Homo sapiens: one gene and its partners. The protein of the gene in region 4 interacts with the protein of the main gene of each other region in a pairwise test. Each region holds a gene or a part of one and is shown on either strand. Other genes may lie near its edges. The genes, in order: ROR2, POM121, NEDD9 and FAM168B.

Evidence for each region.
Region 1: the proteins of FAM168B (region 4) and ROR2 interact in binary tests that used the Homo sapiens proteins (3 or more experiments, as listed by UniProt).
Region 2: the proteins of FAM168B (region 4) and POM121 interact in binary tests that used the Homo sapiens proteins (3 or more experiments, as listed by UniProt).
Region 3: the proteins of FAM168B (region 4) and NEDD9 interact in binary tests that used the Homo sapiens proteins (3 or more experiments, as listed by UniProt).

What each region holds. Positions count from the first base shown.
Region 1 is NC_000009.12:91,730,215-91,737,240, reverse strand, and holds part of ROR2 (tyrosine-protein kinase transmembrane receptor ROR2 isoform 1 precursor), read left to right. Parts: intron 1-3,804; coding exon 3,805-4,119; intron 4,120-6,085; coding exon 6,086-6,331; intron 6,332-7,026. UniProt on the Homo sapiens protein: Tyrosine-protein kinase receptor which may be involved in the early formation of the chondrocytes. It seems to be required for cartilage and growth plate development. Phosphorylates YWHAB, leading to induction of osteogenesis and bone formation.
Region 2 is NC_000007.14:72,928,089-72,935,114, reverse strand, and holds part of POM121 (nuclear envelope pore membrane protein POM 121), read right to left. Parts: intron 6,731-7,026; coding exon 6,650-6,730; intron 5,176-6,649; coding exon 5,004-5,175; intron 1-5,003. UniProt on the Homo sapiens protein: Essential component of the nuclear pore complex (NPC). The repeat-containing domain may be involved in anchoring components of the pore complex to the pore membrane. When overexpressed in cells induces the formation of cytoplasmic annulate lamellae (AL).
Region 3 is NC_000006.12:11,222,643-11,229,668, reverse strand, and holds part of NEDD9 (enhancer of filamentation 1), read left to right. Parts: intron 1-7,026. UniProt on the Homo sapiens protein: Scaffolding protein which plays a central coordinating role for tyrosine-kinase-based signaling related to cell adhesion. As a focal adhesion protein, plays a role in embryonic fibroblast migration.
Region 4 is NC_000002.12:131,069,443-131,076,468, forward strand, and holds part of FAM168B (myelin-associated neurite-outgrowth inhibitor), read right to left. Parts: intron 6,928-7,026; exon of another isoform or gene 2,580-6,927; intron 2,497-2,579; coding exon 2,413-2,496; intron 1-2,412. UniProt on the Homo sapiens protein: Inhibitor of neuronal axonal outgrowth. Acts as a negative regulator of CDC42 and STAT3 and a positive regulator of STMN2. Positive regulator of CDC27.

The DNA of each region.
Region 1 (7,026 bases), on a different chromosome or scaffold from region 4:
GAAGTAGTGGCAATTGCTAACATGATTTGCCCTAAAAATGTTCCTGGCCTGTATGTTTAAATTAGCAAGTGTGGGTTGCTTGGAATATACTTCTGCACTTTTAACTCAGCCAAACCGTGTGGGTCCAAAGCACTGTCCTCACTGCAACGCCAGGGCCTCCTGCCCCGGGCCTGCCACACTGGCGCAGATAGCCTCAGCGCCCCCACACTCACTCTGCTTGACTTCTCATTCTGTACTTCCTGACTCTTCTATCCTCTCTGAGCCACGTTTGGTCCAAAGGCACCCAGGCCTGATTGCAGCTGTTTTGGGGAAAGAGTCGCGGGTCATCAGTGGTAGGGATGCTGCAGTGAACACACACTTTGTCAGTCCTGGGTTTCCAGAGAACAAAGCCACGTCTTTGGGTACCTGGTTCAGGGTCTGAGAAAGTGGCAAGTCAATTAGGAACTGCAGCTGCTCATCCTTGGTCTCATTAGGACTTAACTTCTCTGATTGGCTGTCCCAGTTCCCAGCATACAACTCGAACACATTGATGGGGTCCGGGGTCCTTCTTAGGGGAAAGGCCTTGGAAAGGAAGAAAATTAATTAGACAATAGTCCTACAGAGCCCTCCTCCTGCTGTCTCTACTCTCTCCACAAACACATACACATTTTCTCTCCAGATCCCATAAGGAGCAAGACACATCCTGTGCAGATGGCCGGTGCCCCAGCACCTCAGTTTAGTTGGATCCTCTCCATGGGAGCGGGAGGCTCTGCTGCAGATTAGAGTCAGTGGGTGATCTCTGATGCCTGCGCTCCTGGGAGAGTGTGGTGGGGCAAAGGGGATACAGGGCACTGACCTGTTAAGGGGTGACAATGAGGATCCAAGGCAGAAAGTCACCTCATGTCACTGACAAGCCCTTCTAAGTTCAGGTCACCCTCGGACTAGAGAGTCGAACATCACATTCACGGTCACAGAAGAGACTGCCTGGCCCATGTGCTGGTACAGAGACCTCTGAGGACAGGGCCAGGGGGTCCTGTGCAAACTGAAAGAGCCATCATGAGACAGAGAGGAACCTGGAGATGCCATCCTGTTCCAGCGGGAGATGGTTTTGAAAATATGGCTACCTCTCACTGCAAAAGCTTTCTTTGCCATTAAAGTAGGACTTCTCAAAGGTTTTTACCGAAACACACAGTGGAAAATAGAGAATATACTTTACGCCATGACTTAGTGTACACATACATGTATTTCACACAACTGACATAGGTTACAGGGAATAACTTTCACCCTTCGTAAAAGCGGTGCACTTGGATTTTTCTTTTCAGTTTTATTTCATTAAATAAAAAAGTGGCCGGGCACGGTGGCTCACGCCTGTAATCCTAGCACTTTCGGAGGCTGAGGCGGGCAAATCACGAGGTCAGGAGTTCAAGACCAGCCTGACCAACATGGTGAAACCCCATCTCTACTAAAAACACAAAAAATTAGCTGGGCATGGTGGCGGGTGCCTGTAATCCCAGCTACTTGGGAGGCTGAGGCAGAAGAATCACTTAAACCCGAGAGGTGGAAGTTGCAGATCGCGCCACTGCACTCCAGCCCCAGAGACAGAGCAAGACTCTGTCTCAAAAAAAAAAAAAAAAAAAAAAAAAAAAAAAAAAAAAGTTAGAGCCCTTAGTAGGAACCGTGCATTCTGACATCCTCTAGTCTGTTCTTACCATCTTTTAAAATGCTAGCTGCAGACTCTCAGAATTAATTAGACACCCTACTAATTGGCAAGCACTGATCCAGGGCACAAGATTGTCCCTCAGTTATCTCTTCAGGAGTTGTTTAAGGAATCAGCTTGCATCCAAGCAGCCTGGTTTTATAGCATCTTTTAGAGAAGAGTTTAGAATGAAGATTTTCTAGGTGGGTGGCTTTTTGAAAACAGTAAATTTGAAGTTGCTCTCAACAGACTTGTGGTTTTGAAATAAGCATAGTAATGACTGCGTTGTGTGCAGTGTTGTGTTGGAAAGTGTTGTGTGACATTCAGGGTGTGGACAGATAACAGGATGTGAGTTGTTGGATCTCTTTGTGCCTAGAATTGCACTTTCAGAAATAAGCAGTACATTCTCAGGGTGAGGAGAAGGAGAAAGAGAAATCCTATAAAGATCAGCAGAGACATCCTATCAGTGGATTAGCCCAAGAGAAGTGACAGCTTTGGCATTCTTAGACAATCTTTCCCTGCCTGGAGGTCAAGGCCTACCTACATTTTTGACAGCCATCCATATAATCCCAAATCTGTAATGATGGGATTGAACAGGGTTGAAGCCTCAGTTCTTCCTCCAAATCCAAGACATCCTGTACTGTAACTGCTTGCCCTCTCTGTTCCTCCATTTAAATATCGGCCACAGGAACCCAGAGGAGGGGAGGTGATGTGATGAGCACAGTAGTGCCTGCACACAATCAGGACAGCGTGGCTGCTCCCGCCCACTGACGCCGCCTTTTACCAGACCCCTGGGCCCATTCACGCTGAGGGCCACTTTATAGGCTCTGTGTGCACTCTCATTCCCCAGTGTGGGGTCTCAAATCACTCTTCAGGTACAGAAACAGGCCCGGAAAGGCATGAGTGATACCACAAAGTGATCACGCACAAGGCTGTTCCCACACAGCTGCCCATCCCGTTCCTGGGTGGGTTCCCAGGGAATGACTGACAGCGGCACTGCCACCTGCTGGCCAAACCTGGCACAGCACTTACACGCTTTCCTTGCCTGGAGGTCAAGGCCAGCATTCTTGACAGCCCTCTGTATAATCACCAAATAATCGCCAAATCTGTAATGATGGGATTGAACTGCATTCGTGGGTGGAGTTAGGGCTCCTCAGGGACTAAATGCCAGCTTCTGGGTTTTCTGCCACGCTGGAGGACACAGCCTCTGCTGGGTGTGCAGGCAAAGGGGCCTGTCTGCCTCCACTGTCCCCAAGCTCAATTGTTGTAAGCCAGCCTTTCACAGGTGAAAATGGGGTAGTGAGCCCAGGGCAGGCTGATGCATTCCTTAGAGCCCTGCCTTGGCCAGCTTCTTCACCCTTACCAGTGTCCAGCCATGCACCCCAGGTGCAGCAGATCTCTCCCCAACACCCCCACTTTGTTCCCGAACTCACCCCATCTTCTAACCACCAAACTGCATCCTCTGACATCTTGCCCTTAAAAAACAAACCGCCCTACCAAAGGGGGCTCTGGATCTTCGGGTTTTTCTGCTCCCCCTTATCACAGAACCTTCCAGAGTTGTAACGCGGCTCTCCTCCCACTTTGCTGCTCTCACCCTCTTGGCTTTCCGCATTTTACCAACTGTCTCCTCCAGCTGCAGTTCACAGAGCTGAGCTGACTCCCTCTTCCGGGACAGCCTTCTCCCCAGACAGATCTGGGACATTGGGAAGCCTGGGGCTCGGTACTGCACTTCTTGGCCTGCGCTCTCCACACATGGCGGGTCCTTAGGATCTGCTTTTGCATCTGAAGTCTGAACCCTCTTGTCCTGGAAGAAGCACCTAGCGGAGTGAGCTAGGGGGCCGAGTTTTCCTTCTTTCTTGTTCTGCTTCTGATGTTTCTAAGTGAGGCCCTGGGACCAGGGACTTTTCTGTGACTGCTGCAAATCAGAGCAGGTGATGGGCAGGCTGGCCTGCTGGTGGGGAGCCTCTCCAGGGTGGTGTGCGGGGCTCGGGGTTGGGGAGTCTGGGGCGGGGCGGGGCATCAGGGGGCTGAGTGGGCAGTCTGGGATGCCAGGCTGGGGGTGGGGACTGGATGAATGTCAAGGGCGCAAGGTGGGTCCCCCGCTAACGCGAGTCTCGCGGGCTCTGCAGCGGCCTTCACCATGATCGGCACGTCTACGCACCTGTCGGACCAGTGCTCACAGTTCGCCATCCCATCCTTCTGCCACTTCGTGTTTCCTCTGTGCGACGCGCGCTCCCGGACACCCAAGCCGCGTGAGCTGTGCCGCGACGAGTGCGAGGTGCTGGAGAGCGACCTGTGCCGCCAGGAGTACACCATCGCCCGCTCCAACCCGCTCATCCTCATGCGGCTTCAGCTGCCCAAGTGTGAGGCGCTGCCCATGCCTGAGAGCCCCGACGCTGCCAACTGCATGCGCATTGGCATCCCAGCCGAGAGGCTGGGCCGCTGTGAGTGCCCGAGGGCCCGGGGCGGGACCGGGGGGCGCAGGGAGTGTAGGGCCCTTGAAATGTGTATGGGGGTGTCGGTGAAGCCCAGGGAGCCCCATCTGTCCAGGCCCCACAGAACCCCCTTAGCAGCCGAGGGCCCCACAGCCTAGGCCTCCATTCCAGCAGGGCAGCAGGCGGGGCCTCGGATCAGGGGCTTTGGAGCCATTCAGCCCCAGGCTCGCATGTGGGCTTGCACTGTGTCCAGCTGTGGGACTCAGGTGAAGTCCCTCCACCTGCTTGAGCCTGGGATTTCCCTTCTCTGAAATGGGAGTGATCTCACTTCCTGTGGAAATGGCTGTTGCGGGCATGAGAGGAGACAGGGCCAGCTTCCTAACTTGCCCGACGGTCAGCACGCACTCGGGCCGCCAGGCGAAAATGCAGACTCTCAACTCCTGCCCCAACCTCCTGAAACCTGGAGGATCAGTCCCCAGAAACCTGTAGGATCCTTAGCCTTGGATGAATGTGAGGCCCACGGAGATGCTGCAGGACTGGCCTGGGAGGGCACCTGAGAAGAACCTGTAACAATCAGGCATCACTAGGGAAGGAAATACAGGGAAGCACCGTGCACCTTTCTACAGGTCCCTGAATCGTGGGGCCTAAGGGATGAGCGTGGGGGAGGGGGACAGTTCTGAGCCCGGGGCCTGGGTGTGGCCTGTTTGGGGTCTGCACAGGACGAAGAGCATGCTCCCCACTGCCCCTCTTGCTGGCAGCAGCCCCTGCCCTCTGGAGGCTTAGTAAACCCCAAGTTGTGAGCCCCAGCAGGGTGGCCATGGCCAGTCAGGATGGCAGACACAGGACAGGGAGCGCTGCTTATGTCTCCGAGGAAAACCATTGGCTGACATCACTGCATCCATACGGGTTGTTGCCTCCCTGAGGAGTGAGACCTAGGGAACGGGCCACCTCCGCCACAGCTCCGGGGCTGTATTTAGCATCGTTGGCTAATCTGGGGGTCCAGGAATGGCCAGGACTCCTTACCAGGACCAGCCAGGGCCTGGTCCTTGGGCCCGTTGCCTGCATTCAGACCCTCATTGTGACCCTGGACAAGTTGCTAAGCTCTCATATCCTTATATTCCGTGGGGATGACACCAGTACTAACCCGTGGGGCTGAAATGAAGGTCAAATGAGGCAATATTTAGGAAGGTGGTTTTTTTGTTTGTTTTGTTTTTTTGAGACAGAGTCTCACTCTGTCACTGAGGCTGGAGTGCAGTGGCATAATCTTGGCTCACTGCAACCTCCACCTCTCAGGTTCGAGCGATTCCCCTGCCTCAGCCTCCTGAGTAGCTGGGACTACAGGCGTGCGTTACCACATCTGGCTAATTTTTGTATTTTTAGCAGGGACGGAGTTTCACCATGTTGGCCAGGCTGGTCTTGAACTCCTGACCTCAAGTGATCCACCCGCCTTGTTAGCCACGGTGCCCCAGCCAGGAGGGTTTAGAGCAGCGCCCCACACATGGTAAACACTACAGAAATGTTCACCAAATGCACACCCCAACCCCAGGGTTCCTCCATGGAGGTGGCGTGGCCTGCACTGTTCTCACCCATGGCTGAGCAGGGTGTCCTGAGATGGAGGGGCCAGGCCCTTCTTGCTTGCACAGTTGGCTTTCTTCCTAGAGCAAGTTGATCCTGAGGCTGGGGAGACATCCCCATTCTGGTGGGGTGGTGGTGTGCAGGTGCCTCGTGGGTCCCAAGAGATGGTTCTGGGGCTGTGGAATAACTTTAGACAAGTTTCCTTCCCCATGCCTATCCCTGATGTGCCCTGCATTTAATTTGTGGGCTTGGGACTTCATTAAGCCATTACTTTTAATGCCTCTTTTCTGGTAAGTTATGTAAAATCCTTGGATCTTTTGGAAATTCTAGTTTGGGCATGTGTAGGCAGAATGGTTTTGTTGTACCCCGGAGGTTTTCCTAACGTGTTTTCCTTGTTCAGACCATCAGTGCTATAACGGCTCAGGCATGGATTACAGAGGAACGGCAAGCACCACCAAGTCAGGCCACCAGTGCCAGCCGTGGGCCCTGCAGCACCCCCACAGCCACCACCTGTCCAGCACAGACTTCCCTGAGCTTGGAGGGGGGCACGCCTACTGCCGGAACCCCGGAGGCCAGATGGAGGGCCCCTGGTGCTTTACGCAGAATAAAAACGTACGCATGGAACTGTGTGACGTACCCTCGTGTAGTATGTATTCTCTCTCTCTTTTTTTAATGTGTTGATTGTTGAGTGAACCTTGTGATGAGGGCGTTCTGTCCTGACCTGGGTTGGGGTGTGCCTCTGTACGGTGGCGACCAGAGACCCCTGATCTTACCACAGTGACCATTTTAAATAAAGCTGTTGGGCCACGCGTAGTGGCTGATGCCTATAATCCCAGCACTTTGGGAGGCCGAGGTGGGCAGATCACTTGAGGTCAGGAGTTCAAGACCAGCCTGGTCAACATGGTGAAACCCCATAAAAATACAAAAATTAGCCAGGTGCGGTGGCACATGCCTGTAATCCCAGCTACTCAAGAGACTGAGGCAGGAGAATCACTTGAGCCTGGGAAGCGGAGGTTGCAGTGAGCCAAGATTGTGACACTGCACTCCAGCATGGACAGCAGAGTGAGACCCTGTCTCAAAAATAAATAAATAAATAACGCAAGTTATTGGTTGTTATGAAAGTAACATCTGACCATTACAAGACATTTTAAAATATAGAAAAGTCTGAAGAGTAATGTCAGATCACCCCTAATGTTACCACCCAGTAGTGACTTGTTTGCGTTTTGGCCCACCCCCTTCCATCAGCCCTTTTCCCATGTATGGATGGTCCTGGGATATTCACTTTGACATTTTGTTTCTCCATTAACATTATCTCCCAGTGCGGTGGCTCACAACCTGTAA
Region 2 (7,026 bases), on a different chromosome or scaffold from region 4:
TTAATTCCATCCAAAGTAATCAGTAGATGAAAGGCAATCCCAATCAGTATCTCAGAACTTTTTTTTTTTTTTGTGGAAATTGACAAGTTGATCTAAAAATTATATGAAAATGCAAAAGGCCAAGATACAAGACAGTCCTGAAGAGAAATGAGAAAGTGGGATGACTGACTCTATCAAGACTTAAAGTATAAGGCTAGGGGTAAAACAAAGACTGGCACAAGGGTAGGTAGAAAAATAGACCAATGGAACAAAACAGAGTCTAGAAATGGACCCACATATATACAGACACTTAAATTAGACAAAGACGGTGCTGCAGAGAAATAAGGATGGTCCTTTCAATAAATGTTGCTAAGAGAAATGGGTATTTCTACAGTAAAAAACAACAACAACAACAACAAAAACCACCAACACCACCAAACACAAAAAAAACTAATTTTGATTCCAACCTCACACCATATACAAAAATTAATTTCAGGTGGTTTATGGATTTACATATAAAAGTAATAATAAAATAATAAAGCTTCTAGAAGGTAGCACAGAAGAAAATTATCATGACCTTAGGTTAGGTAGGCAAAGATTTCCTGAATACTACACAAAGTATGCTAACCACAAGGAAGTAGAATGGCAAGAGCAGGACACTTTTTTGTTGCAACACATACATGACAGACAGCTTGTATCTAGAACATATAAAGAGCGTATTCAAATCTCTAAGAAAAAGACAACAACTTGGGGCCAGGTGTGGTGGCTCACGCCTGTAATCCCAGCACTTCGGGAGGCCAAGGCGGACGGATCACCTGAGGTCACGAGTTCGAGACCATCCTAGCCAACATGGTGAAAACCCATCTCTACTAAAAATACAAAAATTAGCCGGGCATGGTGGTGGGTGCCTGTAATCCCAGCTACTTGGGAGGCTGAGACTGGGGAATTGCTTGAACCCAGGAGGTGGAGGTTGCAGTGAGCCAAGGTCACAGCACTGCACTCCAGCCCGGGCGACAGTGCGAGACTCTGTCTCAAAAGAAAGAAAAAAAAAAAGACTGTACAGTAAAAAGTAAATTTCCTTTTTATCTCAGTAATGATTGCCAGTTTTTAATATATCCTGTAAGAATTATTTTATGCATATTAAAAGATTTTTAAAAGCCCGAATAATAGAGGATACTATACAGTTCTGAGCCTTGTTTTTATGTAATTGCTTTTTGAGATCATTCTCATGAGTACTTCTTCAGTTGCCTTATTCTTTTTCATAGTTACATAGTATATTCCAACTTACACCAATACTGTAAGTTATTCAGTCAGCTCCCTGAAAAGATAACATGTACATTGTTTCCAAGCTGCTATTATTAAAACAATGTTACATTAAATCCTTGTATCCATTTCCCAGTATGTGTGTAGGATAACTTCCTAAAGGTAAAGCTGCTTGATCAAAGGGTGCATGTATCTCTTATGTGGACAATTCCTGTCACAAAGCCCTCTAGAGAGCTGTACCAACTGACACTCCCACCAGCAACGCGTGAGGAGCCTGTTTCTTCTAACACTGCACTTCTATGGTTTCTATTTTACGTTCAAAACTTTGCTTCATTTGGAATAGGTTTCTCTACTATAGGAAAAACTCTTGAACATGAGATTTGGCTGGTAGCCCTTCAGAAAAATGGGTAAAGGATATGAACTAAGACTCATGGAAACAGAACTGAAAATAATCATTCAACATATGAACAGATGATCAAACTACTCATAAGAGACAAAAATTAGATACCTTTTTTTCTTTGAGACAGAATCTCACTCTGTCGTCCAGGCTGGAGGGCAGTGGCGTGAGCTCGGCTCACTTGACCTCTGCCTTTCAGGGTCAAGCAGTTCTCCTGCCTCAGCCTCCCAAGTAACTGGGATTACAGGCACACACGACCACGCCTGGCTAAATTTTTTGTATTTTTAGTAGCAACCGGTTTTTGCCACGTTGGCCAGGCTGGTCTCAAACTCCGGATTTCAGGTGATCCACCTGCCTCAGCCTCCCAAAGTGCTGGGATTACAGGTGTAAGCCACCAAGCTCGGCTGGCTTTTTTTTTTTTTTTGAGACAGAGTCTCACTCTGTCGCCCAGGCTGGAGTGGAGTGGCGCTATCTCTGCTCACTGCAACCCCTGCCTCCCAGGTTCCTGATATTCTCCTTCCTCAGCCTCCTGAGTAGCTGGGATTACAGGCATGTGCCACCATGCCCAGCTAATTTTTATGTTTTTAGTAGAGACAGGATTTCACCATGTTGGCTAGGATGATCTCGAACTCCTGACCTCCAGTGATCTGCCTTCCTCGGCCTCTCAAAGTGCTGGGATTACAGGCATGAGCTGCCACGCCTGTCTTAGATACTATTTTTAACCTGTGAAATTGGTAAAAGCCCAGAGCTACAATAACCAAATCTGCTGGTGAGGCCATGGAGAAATGGTCCCTCTCATACAACGCTGAGGGGAATGCTGAGTGGTGCATGCTCTGTAGGGGGATTTAACAATATCCAGCAAAATTACATGCGCATTTAACCTTTGACCTGGGAATCTGACTTCTAGGAACTTTCCAGAGGCAAAATTGCCAAGGATGAAATGACATATGAACAAATGTATTCTTTGCAGCATTATTTGTGATAGCAGAAGACTGAAACAACCCAACATTTGTCAACAGAGGACTAAAGTACCTATGCAGTTTTAAGACCAAAGATGAGTTTCTGTGTACTGCTATGGAATGACCTCAACTATCTATTATGTGAAAAAGCAAGGTTCAAATCTGTATATACTGTCTACTACCTTAAATGTTAGAAGGTGGCGGTTTTCAGATACACTGATATGCATACCGTTTAAAAAACAATAAAGGATAATCAAAAAATAAAAATGGAGAGGAAGGAAAAATGTAGAGTGGAAAGGGATGGAAACTGAATTTTTGAGTGTATCTTGTTTTAGTGTATTTTTTTTGAAACAACTTATTGTTTCAAAGATTTTACATAATTTAAAACAGAACTATTTCAAAAAGGAAAACACAGAAATCCCTGTAACTTTCAAACATACTGAACAAACGAACCTCACTGTATATAAAGTTGGTGTACCCAAAGGACAATTAACATTACTTTAAAACACGATATATTGATTACATGTCCGTAGCATTCACACAGGGATATAAAGACAAATGAATCACAATTCTTAAACTGACTTCAGCCGTCTTAATAATGACAGTGTTAACAATGACACTGATACCGCTATTTTGAAATTGCATGGGCCAGGCGTGGTGGCTCATGCCTGTAATCCCAGCACTTTGGGAGGCCAAGGTGGGTGGATCACCTGAGGTCACGAGTTCGATGCCAGCCTGGCCAACATGGTGAAATCTCGTCTCTACTAAAAATACAAAAATTAGCTGGGCATGGTGGCGGGCACCTATAGTCTCAACTACTTGGGAGGCTGAGGCAGGAGAATCGCTTGAACTCAGGAAGCGGAGATTGCAGTGAGTCAAGGTCGCACCACTGTGCTCCAGCCTGGGCGACAAGAGTAAGACTCCGGCAAAAAAAAAAAAAAAGAAATTGCGTGTTACTAGGATCAAAGTAATTATAAACCGACATTTTTGGTGTAATACATAAAAATATAAAATCAAATAAATTACATAAAAAATCCTACTATCATAAATTTGAATTTGGAATATTATGAATTATTTATATTCCCCTTTCTAGAGGATCTGTCTATCTTATCTCTCCTAAAACTTAGACTGTAGTCTCTACAGTTCTAACTGGAAGAAACCAAAGCTTTCTGAAGAAACACCCAACTTCGGTATAGGCTAAAAATGGACTTTGGGAAGGTGGGCAAAAAGCAATGAAGCTATCTGTCGAAGACTGCTGGGATCAAAATAAAGGATACAGGAGCCAGTTTGGAACCCATAGTCCAAAGCTGGAAAAGTTTGCATATCAAAAATAATAACTAGATATTAAATAATATTAATTATCCCTCTTAAATTATTAAGAGGGATAATGATATTACGGTCATTAATGTTCATTTATATGACTGTCAGAGCCTTCTGGGCTGATGAACTCGTCTCAAAATCTTCCTCCTCTCAAAAACATTTCTCCATACATGCTTTACATCTTTTTGTCTGGCTGCTGTATACTGGGTACCCACTTACTGACAGCCACTGTAATAGGTGCTTTTTAAATATTACCCTCAATCACTGCAACAGCACTTCAGAGATAAGAAAAAGAGATGTTATGTGATTGTCTGCCCAAGACCTTATAGCTACTAGATGTCAGAGCCAAGCATTTTTTTCCTTTTCTTTGAGACACAGTCTTGCTCTGTTGCACAGGCTAGTCTTGAACTCCTGGACTCAAGAGGTTCTCCCACCTTGACCTCCCAAAGTGATGGGATTACAGGCATGAGCCATCCCGCCCAGCCTCAGAGCCAAGATTTGAATCTAAGTCTGTCCAGCAGCAAAGCCTGCCCTGTTCCCTATACTATGCGATAATCCCTTTTCCAAAAAATCATGACCACTTGTTTAAAAACCCCGCTTTCAATTCTAAACGCCTATAAGATAAATCTCTTTTACGACCCAATACAAGCTGGACTCAGTCTACCTTTCGAATCACCCTCTGTCCGTTTATCTACAACACAGCTCTGTCTCGAATCAGCTCGCACACATGCACTGCTGTACATTCTGGGCTTTCTACTCCATTCCGCTGGCCTATATTGATCACTCAATGATCTGTATTTTCTATTAGCTTAAAGACAATTCTAATGTCTGACAGATAGAAGGTGATCAGTAAACCTTTGCTAATCAATTACTTTATTTAAAAAATTTTCTTTAAAAATTCTTTTGTACAGACAAGGTTTCACTATATTGCCCAGGCTGGTTTTGAACTCCTGGGCTCAAGCAATCCTCCCGCTTTGGCCTTCCAAAGTGCTGGGATTACATGGCTAAGCTACCATGTCTGGCCCTAGTCAATGAATGAACGCTGGGAATTCATGTCCCCCACATTAAAAGAGCTGTACTTGTACCTGTGAGATGCCTCGAGTGGAGCTGTAGGAACTGGTAATGGCATTGCGGCTGGAGCTAGGGATGCCACTTGCGTAAGCGCCTGTCAAGGAGCTCATGGAAGAGCTTCGGGATCTCTTATTCAAGTGGTCATCTGAGCTCTGAGAATTGAGGCCTCTCTTCAGAGACCCAGGCCTAATAAAAGAGAAGACAGTTAGATGCTTTATTGAAGGCAAAATTCTTTTACGATTTCATCCACGGTCATGACATCTTTCTTAATAACATGAAGGGAAGAGAATAATGCTTTTAATTTTTACTGCTAACAATCTGGCCAAATCTATCTGACAAAGTCAGTAAGAAAAGCCAAATATTTAAAACTTAAATGTATGATTTCCATTTATAGAATATTCTGGAAAATGCATACCTATCTACAGTGACAGAAGACAGATCAGTGGATGCCTGGGAACAGGGGTGGAAGTAAAGAGAGGGATTACAGGCATGTGGGAACTTTTGGAGGTGAAGGATGTTCATTATCTTAGTGGTGGGATGGTTCCACAGGTGTATGTGTGTCAAAATGTCACATGCTTTAAACAAGTACGGTCTATTTTATGTCAATTATATCTCAACAAAGCTATTAAAAAAAAATCAGAGTTAAGAGGAACCCATCATTTTACTAAACCTCCAATGGAAACAGAAATCTCCTACGCATCTTTTCTGTAGGACAGTCATCCAACCTGTTACAATATAGACAACTCTCTCCTAGAGTGACCCACGTCAACCATGAACCAGTTTATTCTTACAGTGGATTACAGTGTATTTCCTCTTTCACCCACGGATCCTATTTGAAGTCAAACAGAGCAAGTTATTTTGCTTCTTTCAAGGGACAGTCCTTTGGTTTTTTGGAGACCATTGTCCTTCCCTCACTTATTTCTTTATTCCCCCTGAGACTTTTCTCCTCTGGGCTAATACTTCCATACCTCCAAAACCCCAACATCCACCACCACCCCTTTGGGCTGTTGCAAATCTCCTTAACATCTTCATTGCTTCACTGGGAATGAATTTCCGTTTGTGTACATCCTCCCTCGCAGTGCAGTACACTGATCTGACCACAGTGCTCCACGGACAGTGAGCAGAACTACGGAAGGCAGGAATACCATCCACCTGCCTCATTCTAGTCTTTCTTCTAACAGCACAGACCAGGAGCACTTTAGCTTTCCTGGCGGCCACATCACACTGCTGACTCAGATGAGGTACCTAAGGTATCCTAAGTCTTTCCACACATACTTTTGAGCCACTTTCCTTTCCACCCAATTCTTCCTCCAATTTGTTTTTAAACTGACATGTAGAAATTTAACATTTAGGTTTCATACTGTTTTATCCACTGCACAAACTTTGCAATCCTTCTGTGTATGTGCTTGGTTATTAAATATATTTATAAAACCTCTTAAGTCTCAGCATATTTCATCCATATTAATGCAAGAACATTAAAAGGAATTAGACAGAAGGCAGTTAACTGTGGCAAGTTACTCAAAACGTTCCTAATTTCAAAGACGTGAACCTGAACCAATTAAGCAATGCAAAAAACAAAGAGGAAAATCTATAGGGCAACAGCTCTGATCAGGCCTTTTTCCAAACAGTTGGTATTTCATCCGGATGGACTCCCACTTACTTAGGCACAAAAGAAGCGGGGACTCCATTGGCCACCAGGGGCTCAAATGCTGAATGTCCACTGCCACTGCTATCATGGCGCCTGCGACAAATCAAAAAAGTCTCAATGAAATGACATGACTTTTTTTGTCCCTTTAAAGTGTATTCTCATATTTCTGGGACCTTATACTATCTCTATGGAGCACAGATTCCATGATAGACCAGAAAATGGTTGTTTAAAATCCCTAAGCTTCTGAAAGGTAAATTTTTTTTTTTTCAGACAGAGTTTCGCTCTTGTTGCCCAGGCTGGAGTGCAATAGCACGATCTTGGCTCACTGCAACAAACCTCTGCCTCCTGGGTTCAAGCGATTCTCCTGCCTCAGCCTCCAGAGTAGCTGG
Region 3 (7,026 bases), on a different chromosome or scaffold from region 4:
TAGTAAATTACGGGGGCTTCATTTATTAAGAATTTTCTACAAAATCCCCTTCATATACAGAGCATGTTCTTAATTGGGCGGGGGCTGGCGGGGTTAGGTGATTGCCTCGATGGCCTTGGTTTGCTTACCCAGTGAAGGCTCCCTCCTGAGGGTCTGGAGGTGTATGGTTGTGCTGTTTCCCAGGAGGGTGATGGAAGGGTCTCTGCGCAGCTGTGTTTGAGCAGAAGCCCCCGAGACCCCACCCCGTTTGTGCCTGCCAGGCCCGAGGCCCCGCCCACCTCAGGCCCAGCCCGGGCGGGGGCTCAGCGGCCCCTTGGCCTGGCTGCTAATGGCTGAGCAGAGACGCTTTTGTGGCTTTGCCAAATTTCTGAGCCCTTACGTGCCTACATTAAAATTCTAAATTATTTATCTCGTCTACCATGCAACAAATTCATTCTTTAACGTTTTGACTGAAGAAAAATTACAGACGGAACTTACAATGCCATTAAGAAAGGTGCATTCTGAAAGTCAGAGTCCTGTGTTCTGGTTGAATGGGGTAGGTCAGGGAAAGGAGAACCTGTGTGCCGTGAAACGCTTTGGAAAGGACTTTGAAAGTATTCGTATTTCCTCAAGCAAGACCGAGGAAAATAATGACAGAGGATCTTTAATTTAGTCAATATGGTCATGCATAAGCTATTAAATTCCCAATTATTTCCTTGCTTTGATATTTTGGTTTAAAATGCTTTATTTTTCTCTGTATGATTTTTGCAACCAATCCAAATGTAGGACTCCTGTCCTTTTCCTTTTTAAACCTTGTATGAGATCTATGGATTTAAAATCACTAAAACATGCTTTGAAAAATATCAACTTGGTTATTTATGTATTTATGCATTTATTTATTTATTTAGTAAACCCATTTGCAGAGCTAAATGGCTTACCTACACAGAGATAAAAGCCTTTAGAGTACTGAAGGTGCCTGATAATACCAAATTTAGCAAGTTGTACAGTGCGTAACATGCCAAGGATTCCTTTAGCATCCTTTCCTTGCTGGGATACACGTCAGTCCCTGTTCTCAGAATTCAGTGGTTCCCTGTCTCTCCCTTCACTCCAGTCTTCTGAAAAAAACACCTTCCTCTCCACTTTTCTTTTTTTCTTTTTTTGAGATCAAGTCTCACTCTGTCGCCCAGGCTGGAGTGCAGTGGTGCCACCTCAGCTCACTGCGACCTCTGCCTCCTGGGTTCAAGTGATTCTCCTGTCTCGGCCTCCTGAGTAGCTGGGATTACAGGTGCCCACCACCATGCCTGGATAAGTTTTGTATTTTTAGTAGAGATGGGTTTCACTGTGTTGGTCAGGCTGGTCTCGAACTCTTGACCTCAGGTGATCCACCTGCCTCAGCCTCCCAAAGTGCTGGGATTACAGGTGTGAGCCACCGCACCCGGCCTTTTTGCAAATTCTCTCCCACTTTCGTGCTTTTATGACCTCATTGGTTCTCCTTTTATCTTCTTCTTCTTCTTTTCAGGCTTTCCTTACGCTTCTTTAATACTGACTTCCGTAGATCTTACTTCCAACCCCCTACTCCCCAGCCCCCCACCCGCACCTATCTACTGCCGCCCCCTTGCCTCCCACACACAGATGTGACACTTTTAATGCACATTCTGTAGCCCTCATTTTTCCTTCTCCTTAGACTCTGCTATGGGAAATCTTGGTCCCTCACTGCCCCCATTCATCTGCCTCTCTGTTTGCGTTTACATGACTTGAGTGGCCTGTCAGTCCCGCTAGTAAAGTCTCCTCATCCATCCACTCTGTTTAAACAATCAAACTCTGAAACCTGTGTCTCCTGGACCATCCTATAATCCCTAAAATAGGCTGTTATGCTTTTCACCTCTGCCCTACTCTGTTAGCACTACCTTACTTATTGACCTCTTTCAATCAAATCGTTATCTAAAGGATACCTGTAACTCAGATAGGTTGCCTACTGGGCCTGTTTAGTTTTAAGTAAACCCCACTGAATATGAGAGACCCACCCTCTATTTGTATGTAGAGGCAGATTGATCGAAAAGTCCTTGAATAAAAAACATGATCTAGGGTCTGTGAAGTTTTGAGGGGGCCAAGACTTGGTGTTTTATGCTCTTGTGTTAGAGACATGATAGAGCATGGGCTTTGAAGAAAGGCATTTCTGTTCCTTATGGCTTATAGCTCTGGACCTTAGGCAAGTTAAGCTCTCTAAGCCTCATTTTACAGCATTGTCTGTAAAATAGGGATAAGAATAACTGCCTCATACTATTCGAAGACCTGGGATAATATATGAATGAAGTACTTACTATGGCTCTTGGCATATAGTAAGCAGACAATGCAAGCTGGCTCCAGCTCTCTTTGTATGGTAGATGCTCAATAGATGTTGAAAGGATGGTATGTACTCAAGACTTGGTGACAGAATTATGTCAAAATCCCAGTTACTAGGTTGAGATGGTTGAATATTGTTGAGTATTCTGTGGGCCTGGATGTGTATTGTAAGCATAGGGCCCTAACAGCATATGACCCCACTTGCTAATATACTAATGACTTGATTCCTTCATTATTGTTCATTGGACTCAGTATTCCTGAAATTACAAGACTTTGCTCATAGAAGACAAAATGTATACACAAATAGCCATTTAAGAGGATCTTAATACTATATGGCATAGTAAAAAAACAACAACAACAACAAAAAACATGGGCTTTGTTTCAGATCCCACTTTTGTTACTTTCTAACAGTATAGTTTTATGCTAGCTACTTTAAACCTTCTTTTCCTCATTTATCAAATGAGAATAATACCTGTCTTGTCAGATAGTTATAGGATATAATATATGACAATTGTCCTTTCTAGCAGATATTAGGCATTTAATAAATGGCAGCTATTATATGATGTTATATACACATACCCACAAAGATATACAGATATATAGATATGGAATTTTTATATAGATAAAAGTGTTTAAAGGAGACATTCACTAGAATTGTTTACCCATAACAGAAATATCAGTGAGGAAGAGAAAGTCGTCAATTCAAAAAACCAAAGATAAAATCCAAAGAATGTAAGTTGGGAGTACATGAGAAGTTCAGGGTGAACTCTCTTATCCAATTGCAGTCAATTAGAATGACATAAATGTAAAGTAAGAGGTCTTGGTTGTCTATGTTTAGATCATTTTAGGGTCAGAAAGAAATCTGAACAAATTGGTTTGAAATGCCAACCACTAGGACCAAGGCAATACTCTGCAAGAACATATAGGCTGAATTACCAGGACTTCTCGCCAAGACAAATGAAACAGGGCCATTGGGAAGAAATACTATATTTCTAACTTAAAATGCCAGAGAGTAACTGACGGTTTCCTAGGTGATAGATGGTTGCAAAGAGTACGGGCATGAAAAGGGGACACACACACACAAAAAAAAACCCTGTTTATACTTTGCCAACAACACCCCCCTCCATCTTATTTACTTTGAACATTCCAGCCATCTCTCTGCAGTAATTCCTGCTGGCTAATGAGGATTCCACACAGCTAGGGAACATGACAGCCTGCAAAGGATTATTTTCCTGAACAATCTGCATTTTAAGATAAGTCACCTTGTTGGTAACCTTTTGTACCCTTCATTGGAAAGGGTGACTCTCTTTGAAGACAGTTTGACCAAACAATGAGATCTAGGTGAATTTGAGGAAGATAGAACGGGCACTCCAGAAATATGGATAGTGGTGGAGCTGACAGCAGTTTTTCATGGTTGACGTAGGGAGTGGAGGCAGCTGTCATGGAGATATTAAAGTTGCCAGTGGAATGTTTTCCAATACATATTCCTGGGCCCCACAATGGACTATTAAATCCCAGTTATTCTTTAAAAAAAAAAAAAAAAAAAGGCCGGGCGCGGTGGCTCACACCTGTAATCCCAGCACTTTGGGAGGCCGAGGCAGGCGGATCACGAGGTCAGGAGATCCAGACCATCATGGCTAACACGGTGAAACCCCGTCTCTACTAAAAATACAAAAAATTAGCTGGGCATGGTGGTGGTCACCTGTAATCCCAGCTACTTGGGAGGCTAAGGCAGGAGAATGGCTTGAACCCGGGAGGCGGAGCTTGCAGTGAGCCGAGATTGCACCACTGCACTCCAGCCTGGGCGACAGAGTGAGACTGTCTCAAAAACAAAACAAACAAACAAATAAACAAACAAACAAAACAGCTAGTCTCTTTCTCCCTAATCCCCTCACTAACCACTACTAGTGCTTCTGGTGCTTACACGGTGTCTAAGTAGGTAGTTCATGATCCTTATTCAAAGGCTGGATCCAGTGATTTGTAAGTGTCATGTTTCTTTGCAAATCTCAGTCTTGCGAATTAGAATTCCCCCTGATATGTCTAACATATCAAGGTAATAGTTATATGATGTTACTAAAAATGTCCCTCACATGAAATGTTATGTTTATGCCCACAGGAAACAAAGATTTAGCAACAAATATGTAAAAGTGAAACCATTTCAAGCAACAAAAATATTTGATAGCCCTTTTGAAATTAATTTGAATTCCTTTTTTTACTGTGTGTATGTGTGGTTGGGGGGCAGGGGGGCGGTGGATGGATTAATTATCTGTGAAACCCAGTAGAAAGTTGCAGTAACCAAAACACGTGTAAAGTTCAGATTTGAACCAGATCTCCTGTCTACTTCTTAAGGCATTGTGCATTTAGATAGTATATGTCATTCATGTTTTTCCTAGGTTTTATTGGTCAGGCAGAAACACTGTGCTATCTCTTGGTAACTATGAGTTAGCCTTAATCTCAGTGATTCATGACAGTCCACTTGTTTTCCTTAATTTAATGCCTCACTCCCACAGGAGATGAGGCTAACTGAGGACTCATCTAGAGGACTCTTTAAGAATGAGCTGGGCTTTTCTGCCCCCCAACACCCTCCGCCTCCCAAAATAACCATAACAGGCAAAGCCAGCACACAGAAAATGGCAGTAAGTGGACTTCTAGACACTCCAGCTACTTCTGAGTCTTCAGTGTCAGGACACATCAGTCATCTGTCGATGAGATTTTTTTTTTCTTTTCCTTTTGTTCTTTCGTTCTTGTTACTAGTCACTGTGGCATGACTGAGAGTTTGGCAGGAAATGGGTTCGTGGACCTGTGGTACAGTCGCACTACCACAGCAGCATTGGCCTAGCAAAATGTTGAGCCCTCTTTCCCTTGCATGCTCCCCTGGGGCAGAAGTCCAGTGCTATCTCCGCTTCCCTGACCCTCTCCACTCAGAGCCCAGCATGACAAGCACACCTTTAAATGGGTTCAAGGAAGGGAATAGCAGAAATGAACGCAGCCCGACAGCCTCCTTTCTCTTGATAACCCCTGTCACTGTGGAGCTGGACTTCTAGGCTATCTCACAGAGGCCCAGAGGCACTGGAATCGATCTCATTTCCTTACAGACATCACCTTGTCAATTAGAGAACACATAACGTTGATTGAATTTAAGATTCTTATCAGTGCCTAGCTCTTTTTCTCCCAAATCCGAAATTCAGCCATGGCAGATCCATAATCAAGAAATATACTTACATTCCCATCCTTTGTTGTTGGTTTCAAAAATATTTCTTTTTTGTGAGTATGTATCCATGTTTTACAAACCAAAAAAATGGGACATATGGTCTGACAAAGGGAAGGATATTTGAACCTGGGGACTGCCTGGGAGAGTCCGGAAGCACATGGTCACTCTAGAGACTGTCATCAAGGGCTGCTCCTGAGATTAATCCACTGTCGAAGGCATTATCCCATCTCCCTTACAGCAGCCTTTTGCAGGAAACTGTCTAAGATGTTGTGCTTTTTTTTTCATTGACTTGTAAATAACAAGGTGCTCTCTTTCCTTTTCTTTGCAGAAATAGGCATCTTTAGAAATAAAGCCATGCCCATTTTGAAATAAGAACTTGTTTGGAACACCTGAGAGTGTTAAGCAGTGCGGGGGATTTGCATCCAATTGTTCTTGCTTTAAACCTGGCATGGGCGCTCTCGCCTCATAGCCCGCAGCACCTGAATCAAGCCTCCTGCCTCCCTTATTAAGATCTTAATTACAGACTCAGCTTAGTTCATTGCTGAAGGGAAAGAATTTCATTTCTCTGAAGTGTGTCTGTTTTTTGGTGTGGCAGGTGTAATCATGATAAGATCATTTCTGGGTTTTTTGTTTTGTTGGTTTTTTTTTCCTAGAGGAAGTTTTTTTTTCCAAGGGGAGGAGTACAGTTCTTAAGACACAATTTCATGAGCTCATCTTGGCGCAGTAATAATAACTGTGCTTTGATTTTATAGAGACTCTTTTTCCTGAAGAAATCAGAGCATTTGGAGTAAATAATCTCATGATTCCTCATATTTTTATAAAGAAGAACATGTCTATTAATATTTATTTTGCAGACAGGGAAACAGAGGCACAAAAGGCAGAGATTTGATGGTCATTAGTCTTCAAATGTGAAGTCTGAAGCTAGACCCTCCTAATTCAGTCTGGTGTCCATTCCTCTATCCAGGGTTTCTCAACCTTGGCACTATTGACACTTAGGGCCAGGTCATTCTTTGTGGTGGGGGCTGTCCTGTACACTGTAGGATGTTTAGCAACATCCCTGGCCACTCTACCCACTAGATGCCAGTAACACACGTGTGCATGCATGTGCACATGCACACACACACACAGTGACAACCAAAAAATGCCACTAAACATTGCCCGTACCCAGAGGGGACAAAAATCCTCCTAGTTGAGAAGCAGTGGTCTAATCTCTTCTACTCCTTCTCCTTAAAAATAACTGCCCTACTCAAAAATACCCCCATAGAACTGACTGCCATAATTTTATCATTACTGATATTGAGCTTAATGTAACAGGTCCTAACCAAAAAGCAACTTCCTCTTACAGGCCTAGCCCCAGTTTGTTTCAGTGAATACCACAAAATACTAAGAAGCGCAGAGTTTCATTCAAGTCAAATGTAAAACCCATCAAACCATCTCTAAGGCAACTTTAAAGTATTTCTCTGGCTTCTCTCTCTACAATATGTACCTCATCA
Region 4 (7,026 bases):
AAGAAAAAAGAAGAAAATCTTTGTGAAGTTAGGTTACACAGGTTTCTTTCTCTTTTGTTTTTTTTTTTGGGGACGGAGTCCTGCTCTGTCGCTCAGGCTGGAGTGCAGTGGCGCAATCTCGGCTCACTGCAAGCTCCGCCTTCCAGGTTCTGGCCATTCTCCTGCCTCAGCCTCTGGAGTAGCTGGGACTACAGGAGCCCGCCACCATGACCAGCTAATTTTTTGTATTTTTAGTAGAGAGGGGGTTTCACCGCGTTAGCCAGGATGGTCTCGATCTCCTGACCTCATGATCCACCCACCCCGGCCTCCCAAAGTGCTGGGACGACAGGCGTGAGCCACTGCGCCCAGCCAAGTTACACAGGTTTATTAAGTATGGTACCAAAAGCATGATCCATAAAACGACTAACCCTCATCAAACTTTTTTTTTTTTGGTTGAGACGGAGTCTCACCCTGTCGCCCAGGCTGGAATGCTATGGCACGATCTCGGCTCACTGCAACCTCTGTCTCCTGGGTTCAAGTGATTCTCCTGCCTCAGCCTCCCTAGTAGCCGGGATTACCGGAGTGCGCCTCCAAGCCCAGCTAATTTTTGTATTTTTAGTAGAGACGGGGTTTCACCACGTTGGCCAGGCTGGTCTCGAACTCCTGACCTCATGATCCACCCGCCTCAGCCTCCCAAATTGCTGGGATTACAGACGTGAGCCACCGCGCCCAGCCTAAACTTTTAAAACCCCTGCTCTTTAAAAGACGTTGTTAAAAGAATGAAAAAGCCACAGACTGGGAGAAAACACGCATATATCTGATAAGAACTCTCAAAAACTCAACGATAAGAAAACAATAACTGACATACAGTAAAAGCAAATTCTTCACCAAAGACATACAGAAGGCAAATACGCACATGAAAAGATACTGCTACACATTCACTAGAATGGCTAGAATTAAAAAGACTGACCACACCAAGTGTTGTTAAGGATGTGGAGGAACGACAACTCACAAACACTGCTGGTAGGAATGTAAAATGGTACCACCACTTTGGAAGACAGTTTGGCAGTTTCTCACAAAGTTAAATATACACTTGCCATAATAACCAGCCACTCAAATCCTCTGTATTTATTTACTCAAGAGAAATCAAAGTGTATGTTCACACAATAACCTGCATATAAATATTAATAGCATTTTCATTTGTAATAGCCCAAAATTGCAAATAACCCAAATGTTCATCACATGGTAAATGGATAAGCAAACTGAAGTATTTATTTCCATACAACAAAATACTACCTAACAATAAAAAGGAATGAACTGCTAATATACACTACGAGATGGATGGTTCTTTCAAGGCAAAACACAAAAGGAAAACCACTCTAAAGGGAAAAAATGGGCCAATATGGCAAACAGCTAGGGACTGAAAGTCGAGACTCTAGGCATAACTGTGTCTCACAGTCATGGGAAACCACTGAGAAAAATTCATCTGGGAGCATCGCTCTGGTTTAAATGGGAAGAACACTAACCCGGGGAAAGAAAGCTTGGGAGCAGGAAGACCAAGTCAAGAACGTTTTTCTCAGGGTGTGAACTACGGTCTGAACAAGGGTGGTCATATAGGGTCATAGTGGAAGTGGAAATGGAAACGAAGAGATGGATGTAAGGACAGAATATAAAGGCAGAATTTTATGATTAACAAAACAGGAAGAATCTGGGGAAAGGACACTGCTGTTGTCTCCTCCTCTGTCAAAGTTAACTGTGTGAAGCTACTGTTGAGGGATAAAGTTGCCCCAGCAGTCCCAGGATTAAGGCCAAACCACAGCCTCAGATCAGAGTGTGCACCACCACTGCTGCGGCAGAAAGGCAAAGCCCCGTGTGGGTGAAAAAAGTCCAAAAGGAACCAACACCAGAGAGTGCAGGCTCCTAGCAGGAAATCCCACTAAATAACCAATCTCCTCAAGATTCAGACCCAAACCAATTCCACTTTTAATATTAACAGTGATTTCCAAAATCTAAAAATATTCATCTATACATTACATGGAAAATAATACTTTTTTAAAAAATATTATCAGAGTGCTAAAGTAGTCTAACCAAAAATTATCTCTAAAAACATTAACATGGAAATTCCACCTGTTGGCATGGCAAGAAATTCTTCAATTTCTAGTAGGTGATACTATTTCATGAACAGATGCTCTGGCAGAGTTAACAACCTAGTGATTACAGATTTGCCTTGTGGGAGGACATGAGAAACACAGTATATAAAGCTTCAGTGCAGTAAGAATTAAGCTTTTGTTGCACTTATCAACAGGCTAACTTAATGAACTTGAGAAATCGACTCAACCAAGTCCTAATTCTATACCCACCCCTCTCAAAATCCACCCCTTCACCTTTCTCTCCCAGCTGTACGTACAAAGCATTTTACCACCCAGCACATACCTGTTTGGAAGGTAGGATTCGCTCCAGGATACATGTTAGGAGAATAGGCAGGAGCTGCTGCTGCATAGCCCATGGGAAAACCAGCTGAAGAAAAATAAAGAACAATCTCATGTCATCAACTGAAGTAGCGACAATCACTAGAGCTCCTGCAAAGCCATCGCTCTTACCTTCTTCCCCAGAACTCCACAGACTTAAGCAGCCCCAAGAGCACTATGTGTGGCCAACAGCATGTCTCTAGTTGTCTTCTTCCCGCAGAACTTTGTTTTTTTTATCGTTGTCGTCTTTTGAGACAGAGTTTCACTTTCATCGCCCAGGCTGGAGTGCAATGGCATGATCTTGGCTCACTGCAACCTCTGCCTCCCAGGTTCAAGCGATTCTCCTGCCTCAGCCTTCCGAAGAGCTGGGATTACAGGTGTGTGTCACCACACCTGGCTAATTTTTCTATTTTTAGTAGAGACGGGGTTTCATCACGTTAGCCAGGCTGGTCTTGAACTCCTGATTTCAGTTGATCCACCCGCCTCGGCCTCCCAAAGTGCTGGGATTATAGGTGTGAGCCACCACGCCTGGCTTTCCCTCAGAATTTTGATAGGTAACAATTATATATTTTATTTTTATTTATTTTTTGGAGGGGGACAGAGTTTCACTCTTGTTGCCCAGGCTAGAGTGCAGTGGCGCGACCTCGGCTCACTGCAACCTCCGTTTCAAGCGATTCTCCTGCCTCAGCCTTCCGAGTAGCTGGGATTACAGGCATCTACCACCACGCCCAGCTAATTTTTGTATTTTTAGTAGAGACAAGGTTTCACCATGGTGACCAGGCTGGTCTCGAACTCCTGACCTCATGATCCACCCACCTCAGCCTCCCGAAGTGCTGGGATTACAGGCATAAGCCACCGCGCCAAGCCTCAATTATAACATTTCTGGAAGTTTCATTCCAAACTCTAATCACATAATTACTTAGCAAGAGTAGTAAGAGTGCTAAGGGTATCACACGCTAGGTCCTGTTACCCTCATCTGACTTCACTGCACAAAGTCTGGAAGAATCAGAATTCAAGTCTAGCTTGGACTCAAGGGCCTATTTTTGCTGCTACCAGTGAACAGCTAAGCCTATGTAAAGGTCACTCATTTTCACTGAATTCCGACATTTCCTACATTACATATTTTGACTTAAAAGCTATTATTTTTTGTTGTAAGAAACTGTTTTAAACTTCTAAATTCATTTCAGGTTTTTTCACATTCTGATGTTCTTTTTTTTTTCTAAGACAGAGTCTTGCTCTGTTGCCTACGCTGGAGTGCAGTGGTGAGATCTCGGCTCACTGCAACCTCCGCCTCCTGGGTTCAAGCATTTCTCCTGCCTCAGTCTCCCTAGTAGCTGGGACTACAGGCGTGCACCACCACGCCCAGCTAATTTTTGTATTTTTAGTAGAGATGGGGTTTTGCCATGCTGGCCAGGCTGGTCTCGAACTCCTGACCTCAGGTGATCCACCTGCCTCGGCCTCCCAAAGTGCGGGTATTACCGGCATGAGTTACCACGCCTTGCCATATTTTGATGTTCTGATCCCCAACTTCTCCAGCATGACCAGCTAATATGTTTTCATATGTCCTCTCCAAAGCTCACGTTAAAATTTGTCATTTTAACAGCACTGAGAGGTGGGACATTTAATAGGTGACGGCTTTATTATGAAAGTGGGTTCCTGATAAAAAGGACAAGTTCAGCCCCCTTTCTCTCTGACGCACTCGCTGCCCTTCCACCATCCATCACAAGAGGATAGAGCCCAAAAGCCCTCACGAGATGCCATCGCCATGCTCTTGGACTTCCCTAACCTCCAGAACCAAGAGCCTAATAAATTTCTGTTCATTATCCAGCTTGATATTCTGCTAAAGCAGCAGAAAACAAATTAAGACACCAGTCATAAACCCAGGCTGTGTCTTACTTAAGCTTCAGTCTTCTTACAGAAGGAGCTCTAACTGGGAATGCATACACACAGAAATGGGAAAAATCCAACTACAGTCCACGTGCAAATAAGCTGACCTTTATTAATACAAATGAGGAATCTTATTAAGACTAAACCATGACCTAGTAATTCATAATATGAACGAAACAGAAACATCAAATAAGACATTGAGTGCTACAGTCAGAATCCTGGCCCCAAGGTGCAACCAACAGAGGGGGCCTCAGGCATCTGCCCTTTTCGATAAGGCCTCCCTTCCCTTTGGGCTGACCCCTCTGGCTCACAGTACAGGAGGCATCACTTGTGACAGCTGAGGTATTAGAAAGTATTCTCTCTTTTTTTTTGAGACAGAGTCTCGCTCTGTTGCCAGGCTGGAGTGCAATGGCGTGATCTCGGCTCACTGCAACCTCTACCTCCCTGGTTCAAGCGATTCTCCTGCCTCATCCTCCCAAGTAGCTGGGATTTCGGGCACACGCCACCATGTCCAGCTAATGTTTGTATTTTTAGTAGAGACGGGGTTTCACCATGTTGGCCAGGATGGTCTCCATCTCCTGACCTCATAATCCGCCCTCCTCGGCCTCCCAAAGTGCTGGGATTACAGGTGTGAGCCACTGCACCTGGCCAGAAAGCGTTCTTTCTATTTGGGGCACACAGCCAACAAGATGACTCAGGTTTCCTAGCCTTGATTACTGTTCCCACTAGCTGTGAGAAGCTGTAACTTCTCTACTGCACACTTCCTTCACCTGTAAATAAAGTTGAAAGAGAAGAGCAGTCTTCAAAAGAAACTGTGTTGAGGAGGCCTGGAGAAAGGTGTCTCTTACAGCACTTGGACTGGGATTTTTAAGGTGTTACGATCCCTTAGGAACAAATCATGGTGCTAACAGTAACCAAAGCAAGGAAGCCCTAAGGTTGAGGTAAAAACAGGGGGGATCTGAGTGGAATGCCAAAAGGAAAATCTTTGTAGGTGGGACAGAAAGTTCTGAATACAGCTCCTCACGTGCCTCCCTTCGGCCCCCTCAGCCTGGATCCCTTGCTCTATTGCCCTGCATCCCTAAGCCATCTTGCAGGTTTCTGTGGGAACAGGAGGCATCAGTGTCACCAAGCCCTAGCCCCAGAATCCCTCCAAGTGCCCAGTTCTCATCTTTATCCTTGCTTCAAAGTTGCTTTCCTCACTTCAAACTGATCCCCCTCTACCTCAGCAGAAGCCATTCCGGGTTTCCCTCCTGGACTCTCACCCTCCCGTTTGCCCTCTCTAATTAGTCAGAGAACAGAGTGTGGTGGACGTCAAGGGCAGATTCAACTTCAAAGAGACCCACAATGGCCACTGGAAAGACCAGGACAGCAGTTCTGGGGATGCTGAGAGACTCCTCAGAAGCCCAATTGTGAGCACAGGAAGACCAAGAAAGGTCTGGAACTGCCCTCAGAGACCAGGGAACCAGCAAGATTTTTTTTTCCAATGGTTTCCTTCTTTTAAAAAAAAAAAAAAAGTTTCAACTACCACTGACCTAGATCATATCCTGTAGGCCTCTGCAATAATTTCCAGAAATTCCAAATTCCTCATCTCTCCCTAAAACTCTACCAATATATTCTCATGGGAAGAGGGCTGCTCTGGATTTGTTTGCTGAAGATTGTGTTTAACGGTCCCTGAAAAACTACTGTCTTCTTTGCTTAGTCCTTCCCATCCCCACTTTCTTTCTTTTTTTTTTTTTGAGACGGAGTCTTGCTCTGTCGCCCAGGCTGGAATGCAGTGGCGTGATCTCGGCTTACTGCAAGCTCCGCCTCCTGGGTTCACGCCATTCTCCTACCTCAGCCTCCTGAGTGGCTAGGACTACAGGGGCCCGTGCCCGGCTAATTTTTTGTATTTTTAGTAGAGACAGGGTTTCACCATGTTAGCCAGGATGGTCTCGATCTACATACCTCGTGATCCGCCCACCCCGGCCTCCCAAAGTGCTGGGATTACAGGCACGAGCCACCGCGCCCGGCCCCCCAGTTTCTAACAAGAAGTTAACACATCCTATAATGAAACAGCAAACACACACGATAGTATTTAAGATGGCATCACTAGCCACCAGCAACAAGATGCACTACATACCTGGTCTCTGGTATGGGGATCAAAGACTCCCAATCTCCTAGACAGCCTCTGCTGCTTCCGTGCTCCCATCGCCTCATCCCATCAGCCACATCCCACTTGCTCTGTCACCACTCTGACCCAAGCCGCAGCGTGGCTCCCCTCACTATCTCCAATGGTTTCTACCTGGACTGCACAAAACCCACAGGGGCAGCTTTGGGAGGACCCCCAACACTGCTTTAGCTGGTCTCGGGTGCACCAGCCTCTTTTTTCTCATTCTCTCCAGACAGTGAATCTGCAGGGTTCCAAGCAATGGAGTTAAGAATCACTGTTTCTTCCTATTCCTGATCTTTCTGGGTACCCCAACCCCCAGCAGACACAGAGACCGTCTCCTTCAGCATCTATTCTAGCCCTCTTCTGGCATGGTAGGCTGGAAAGGCCAGACTCCCTACATCAAGGCACCAGAGCGATCCCAAACCTGAATCATTTCTACAAGACTGATCACCTTGGCCGGGCGCAGTGGCTCACGCCTGTAATCCCAGCACTTTGGGAGGCCGAGGCAGGTGGATCACGAGGTCAGGAGATTGAGACCACGAT